Regions from separate parts of the Homo sapiens genome. Here region 1 is linked to region 2. Evidence: fine-mapped expression QTL. A gene starts in region 2. The other region holds a variant in brackets. All regions are shown on one strand. Distances are between the middles of the regions. Region 1 overlaps RYK (receptor like tyrosine kinase). Region 2 holds the start of RYK (receptor like tyrosine kinase).

What was found. PIP is the estimated chance that this variant, and not a neighbour inherited with it, causes the effect.
Region 1: its variant is fine-mapped to the expression of RYK in blood mononuclear cells (TOPMed, PIP above 0.99).

Annotation. Positions count from the first base shown.
Region 1 is chr3:134,210,897-134,213,810 of GRCh38, forward strand. It overlaps RYK (receptor like tyrosine kinase), which reads right to left. Exons shown (of 15, transcript NM_002958.4): 3 at 612-711. Among named protein-coding and RNA genes, the nearest start is that of RYK, 39 kb to the right of the region's middle. The variant ACTT/A (reference allele first, on the strand shown) is at 1,279.
Region 2 is chr3:134,249,322-134,252,235 of GRCh38, forward strand. It overlaps RYK (receptor like tyrosine kinase), which reads right to left and starts at 1,538. Exons shown (of 15, transcript NM_002958.4): 1 at 1,102-1,538. The coding sequence starts at 1,333. RefSeq lists an enhancer at 779-1,557 and a silencer at 893-1,712.

The DNA.
Region 1 (2,914 bases), 38 kb before region 2:
TTGAGTCTTGCAGAATGAGTAGGATGAATAGAAAGGAGTTCACGAGCAGAAAGAGGAAAAGATGATCCCAAATACTGAGACCAGCACATGCAAAGGCTTGAAGATCAGAACTGCATGTAGTCTGGAACTGCTACAACTCTGGGGCAAGTGCAGCAACAAGGCTAGACAGGCAGGCAGGGGCAGATGGTAAAGGATCCAGGACACAAGGTGGTGAGTCTGGAATGTTCAGTTGATGGGAGTGGAGAGCACTGATGGGCTTCACGTCACAGGGTCAAACATGACCGTGCAAAGATCATCTGGGCCACAGGGTGAAATGTGGTGCCTAATCAAAGGGAAACAAGATCAGGCACAGGGACTCATGTGGAGGTAAGTACCAGCAATGCAGAAAAAGAGACAGGGAGGGCGGAGCACAGAGAGTTCCAGAAGGACAGAAAAGAGAGAATGGTTTAAGAACACAGTGCAAATATTTACAAAAATTACTTTTCACAGTACTCATACATCTTATGCCTATCAAGTAATACACACTACACATCAGTAAACTTCTGTTTTGGGGCCATAGGGGATGCAGTTGAAAAAGTATGTTAACTCTGTCTTTGAAGACTCTTACTTACCTGATAAAGTGCGTGGAACTTCCCCCTGAACAGAAATGTTGACCTGGGGCATATCCATTGCCAAAACATTGTCCACTTGGAATCCCAGCTTATATTCAACCTGTAAAATAGACAAAAATAAACAAAATGGACCTGTGATAACAAGAAGGATACTATCAGCTTGACTTCATTAATTGGCTCATTAATCAATGGATGAGCCTTTCATATGTACAAATAATCTAGCTATAAAAAAATGCAAATTGTCAGAAACAGTCCTAAGAATTTTCAATTGGATAAAAATTCAACCAAGTAAGCCACCCTCTATTTTAAGTCCACAACAGGACCACCACTCTTCCATAAAACCTGCCATCTAGGGTCAGAAATCCTGCTGAGAACTATGCAGCACTGACAGAGAGGCCATGGAGAGCCAGATATGAAGAACCAAAGCGGTGAGATATGTAACTGACAGACCATAAATAGCTACCAATGCCTTCTCTGGTTGATAAATGAAAGCCAAGCTCGGAGGGCCTCCTTGTGGCTGGTGGAGGAAGGTCTGCTCTGCAGACCCACTCACACAATAAGCAGATTCCAAGGTAGATTTCTCATAGAATATCTAAGTCACATCCTCTAGTCTTGCTCTCACCAAAAAGAAAGTTCATGTTTAGATCCCCATTTGACCTCTGGATCT[ACTT/A]CTTAAGTGATTCAGAATCCAGAAGGGAAGACAGGCAACCCATGAGATGTCTCTAAAACACCAATGTTATCTATCAATACTTGGCCTACCCAATGTGGCTTAACAGAACCAATCAGCATCAATAATTAAGGCTCTGTTGCTATGGAGAGTTCATGAAAGAAGCAGCTCAAACTGCAAAGCAATAGCTGAAATTCAGAATGGCTGCCAGCATCAAGACTTTCAATGAAGCCCTACAGTTCACATCACTCTCTGCCCTGCCCACAGGTTCTTGATAACTATGGTATCCCTCTCTCATTCAGTGGTCACAAAAGGTATCATTGGTGGCAGACTGAGATTTGCAGAGCCACGAGGCAGCAGGTTGGGAAAAGAGTGAGAAGAAAGATGTTCGATAAACCATTCTTCAAGAAACTTAACTAGAAGAATGGGAGACAGATGGTGAAGTGGGGGGTGTTCCAAAGCTTTTCTTTGTTTTTAGATGAGATATTCAAATATGTATATATGCTAGTGAAAAAAGCTAACGAAATGGTACATAATAAAGATGAAAGAAAAGAGGGAAAGAGTATCATCCCAGATATAAGGGAAGGGATGGCCCTTACGCTTGGGCTAAGGTGGAAGGCGTTGTTACCCATGAATAAGAAGGGCTCAGTCCAGAATTTGATTCCCCTTGGGGTTTCTCCTTTCACACTCTATTTAAAGTGTCTTAGCTAAACACTGTAGGGGTATGCAAACATTAAACTCTTCCTTTGCAGTTAAGATAGGTACGTAAACAACTGTTAAAGGCTGTGTTTGATAAGTGCCACATTCCCAACAAAGGAAATGTTCTTGCTGCAGCACATCAGTGACTTCGAGGTACCTTGGCTAGGAAGTGTTCACATTCACCTTAGCATATCACAATACCATTGCTGCCACCAGGGGGTGCTAGAGAGCCACAGCCAAGCAAGTTTGGGCAGGGAATGAGCAAGCTCTCCAGCAATACATCAAAGAATGCATTATACATCCCTACACCGATGCTATCTCTGAACAGGACCATACATGAAGGGTAGGTGCACAAAAGAAATCAGCACCGCCAGCAAGAACTGGGTTTGGAACCATGAGACCATGTGACTCTTAGGTAAATTTGTAACTTCTCTGAGTTTCCATATTTTGTAAAATAAGGGTAATACATGTTATGAGGATCAAATAAGATCATTAATGCAATACATACTGTTAGCCTGGCACAAGTCTCCTCTGACATCAGCAGCATCAGCAGTCATTCCAGAACAGCTACCTTATTGCCATGCTGCACTTCTCCATAATCATCAGCCCACTGCTGGCCCCAGGGATTCTGACACAAACCCTCCTGGGTCTGTCAAGAACACTGTTGCAGGCCTTCTGTTTTTTCCCCATTCTGAGAACCTCCCTATTCAGAACAGCCTCCTACACTCTCTGCCTCTTCACAAATGTCTTCCCACCTTCTCCCACAACCTGGCTTTCCTCAGAAGTCATCTGTTCCCCTTCCTATCATTCAGTTCCTACAACACCTGACCCTCAGGGCCTAGACAGTAGGGTCGGCACTCTTTAGGATCACTAGGTCCTTCCCAGACATCCCTTCCTCATGCCCTCATGCAAATCCCCTCTACTTTGAAGTTTATAA
Region 2 (2,914 bases):
CCATTTCTACACTGAGTCAATCTCAACACACCTCAACAAAGTCTTATTACTTAAAAAAAAATAGAATACTGACAAATAATGGATGCAATAGAGAATAATTTTTCCCCTCAAACACTCAGAAGCACCACCTTCAGATGAAATAAAGATACTGCCATAATAACAAAAGAATGCAAACGTCTAGGTACCAAGGACTTCCTTTTTGGGGGGTCGTTCCTGTCAGATCTTCCTCTAAGGGGTCATTTCCAGAATCCACAAAGTCCTAACATAAGACCCCAGCAATTTTTCAAATTAATTCCCCAAACAACAAAGCTAAGCAAGTAAATGGAACCACAAACCGACCCAAGACTAAGTTCTTGTTTCCCTTCAAGATACTCAAAAGTAGGAGAGTGGCCCAGAAGTACAGAGTCAGTCCAAACTCCCAACACACCCAATGCAAAAACCAAAAAGGTATTGAAACTAAAAAGGTCTGCTACCTGGCGATTCATTCACTAAAAATATGCTTAGAATCTAAGCATATGCTCCAAATCTACGTCCCAAGAGTTGGAGGCTGCCACGAACATTTGGTGCCCTTATAACCTCCCCTTCTTTCTCTCTCGTTTTTTTTTTTTTTTTTTTTTTTTTTGTAAAAGGGTAAGCACAGAGCGTGGCCTCTACTGGAGCATCAAAACCACAGCAAAGGGTTTGCAAGTTCAGTCTAAAACGTGAATTTCGAGATATTCAAAATCGAGGGCCCTAGAGTGACACACATAGAAAGCGTCAAAAAAACTTCGTGCAGCAAGGAAAAAAAGTTGTAAGGGTGACTGACTCTTCTAGGGAGAAGGGCTAAGGAGGCAGTGAGGAGGATGGGATGGGGTGAATCTGGGTCTATCGCGGCGGGGCAGCGAGGGCGGCACGAAGGCTGACCCAGAGCTGGGGACCGGGCAGGGACCACACCTCCCAGCCAGCACGGCAGGCAGAGACCGGGCCGCGAGGCGAATCCGGGCGCGGGGGGCGGGGAGGGTACTCGCCCGAGGTCCACGGCTCGCAGACTGATCCGCCGGCGGCCGGAAGCTGCCCCAGCCGGCCCGACCTGCCCGCCCCGGCCTCGGCGGCCCCACTCACCGATCAGCCGGCGCACCTCGTCCTCGCTCAGGTAGAGACTCACGCTGGGCCCCGCGGAAGCCGACTGCAGCTCCGGGGGCCGCGGGGCGGGGGCGGCGGCAGCGCCAGGCGCGGGCAGCAGCGGCAACAGCGCAAGCAGAAGCAGCAGCGGCGGCGGCGGCGGGGCCCTCAGGCCGCGGGCCCCCGGGAGGCAACTCCGGCCCGGCCGCCCCAGCCGCGCCGCCCCACGCATGGCCGCCGCCGCCGCCGCCGAAGAGGAGCGTCGGCCGCCCGCCGCACCGCCGCCCACCCCCGGCCCCGAGCCGCTCACAGCCCCGAGCCGGGGGCGGCTGCCCAGCTCATCGCACCGCCGGCCCGTGGCAGCCAGCAGTGGCTTCAGACCTCCGGAGCGCGCCGCCGCCGCCGCCTCCTCGCTGCATCGTCCGGAGTTGGGGGCTGCCCGCGGGACGCGCCCGTGCGCGCCGCCGCCTCCCCGGGAGCGCGCACGCACCTTTCGCTCTGGGCGGGCCGGCCTGGGCAACGCGCTGGGGTTTTAAAGTGCCTCGGCGGGCGAAGGGCTCGGGTCACCCTCTCCGCAAGAGCCGGTCCCCGCCCCACGCGGTCACTGCGTCTAATGTTTGCTTGTCTATTGTCTGTAACCCTCCTTTCCCGACGGACGGGCCAGGCTGGAGCCACCGGCCGCGCCTGCAGCTCAGTGGGCGCCCCAGGTCCCCGGAAACGCCTGGATGCGGCCGTTCTGGTTGCGAAAAAGCAGCATGCTTTCCTGTTTAGTGGGAAAACTCAAATAAATAGAAATCATCCTTTATCTTACCATCGGTGATCAACTTTATCGTTTCCGTATCTATTATTAGAATTTATACTACATATATTTGTTTTCCAGAAAGATCTTAGCACGCTTTACTAACCCTATTTTTACGTTACAAAATTTTATTTATTTTTATATTTTTATTTATTTATTTTGAGACGAAGTCTTGCTCCGTCACCCAAGCTGGAGTGCACTGGCACGATCTCGGCTCACTGCAACCTCTGCCTCCTAGGTTCAAGCCATTCTCCTGCCTCAGCCTCCCGAGTAGCTGGGATTACAGGCGCCCGCAACCATGCCCGACTAATTTTTTTGTATTTTTAGTAGAGACGGGGTTTCACCATGTTGGCCGGGTTGGTCTCGAACTCCTGACCTCACGTGATCAACTGACCTCGGCCTCCCAAAGTGCTGGGATTACAGGTGTAAGCCACCGCGCCCTGCCAAATTGTTATTTTTTTTATAATCGTTCTGCATCACTATAATCAACCTGCCTTTGGGGTTGTTAATCTGTGGTCCATACCAGGCTTCGACAGCCTTCCAATAATATGAAACTGTGTGCAAAAGTGTATGTGTCTCCGTGCGTATTTGTGTCCACGTCCATGTTTCTGTGTGTTGTGTGTATGCTTGATTGCACACAGAGAGGTGGTATGTCATCATTTGTTCTAGGGAGTCCTTGTGCCCTCAAAGAGGTTAAGAACTGCAGATAGACCTCGTGTACTTAAAGGCGGTGGAGCCAGCCAGTGCATGGACTTCCGGGCCTCCTGATGTATTTTTGTGAGCCGCCCACCATCGCGGTCAAACTTGCACCAGTGCCCCCTCTCTTGGTGAGGCTCCAAGGGCCCCTGCCCTGTCCTGGGACACCTCGTCCCTGCGGACAGGCCCCCGTCCTGACCCCAAGGCTCTCGCGGGGCCGTGCCTCGGGGAGCAGCTGCTCTGACAGCTAGGCCTGGCTTCGGGGCACAGTTGCTCCATCGCAGTGAGGCCCTGGGAAGCGGTTATTTTTATCCTCAG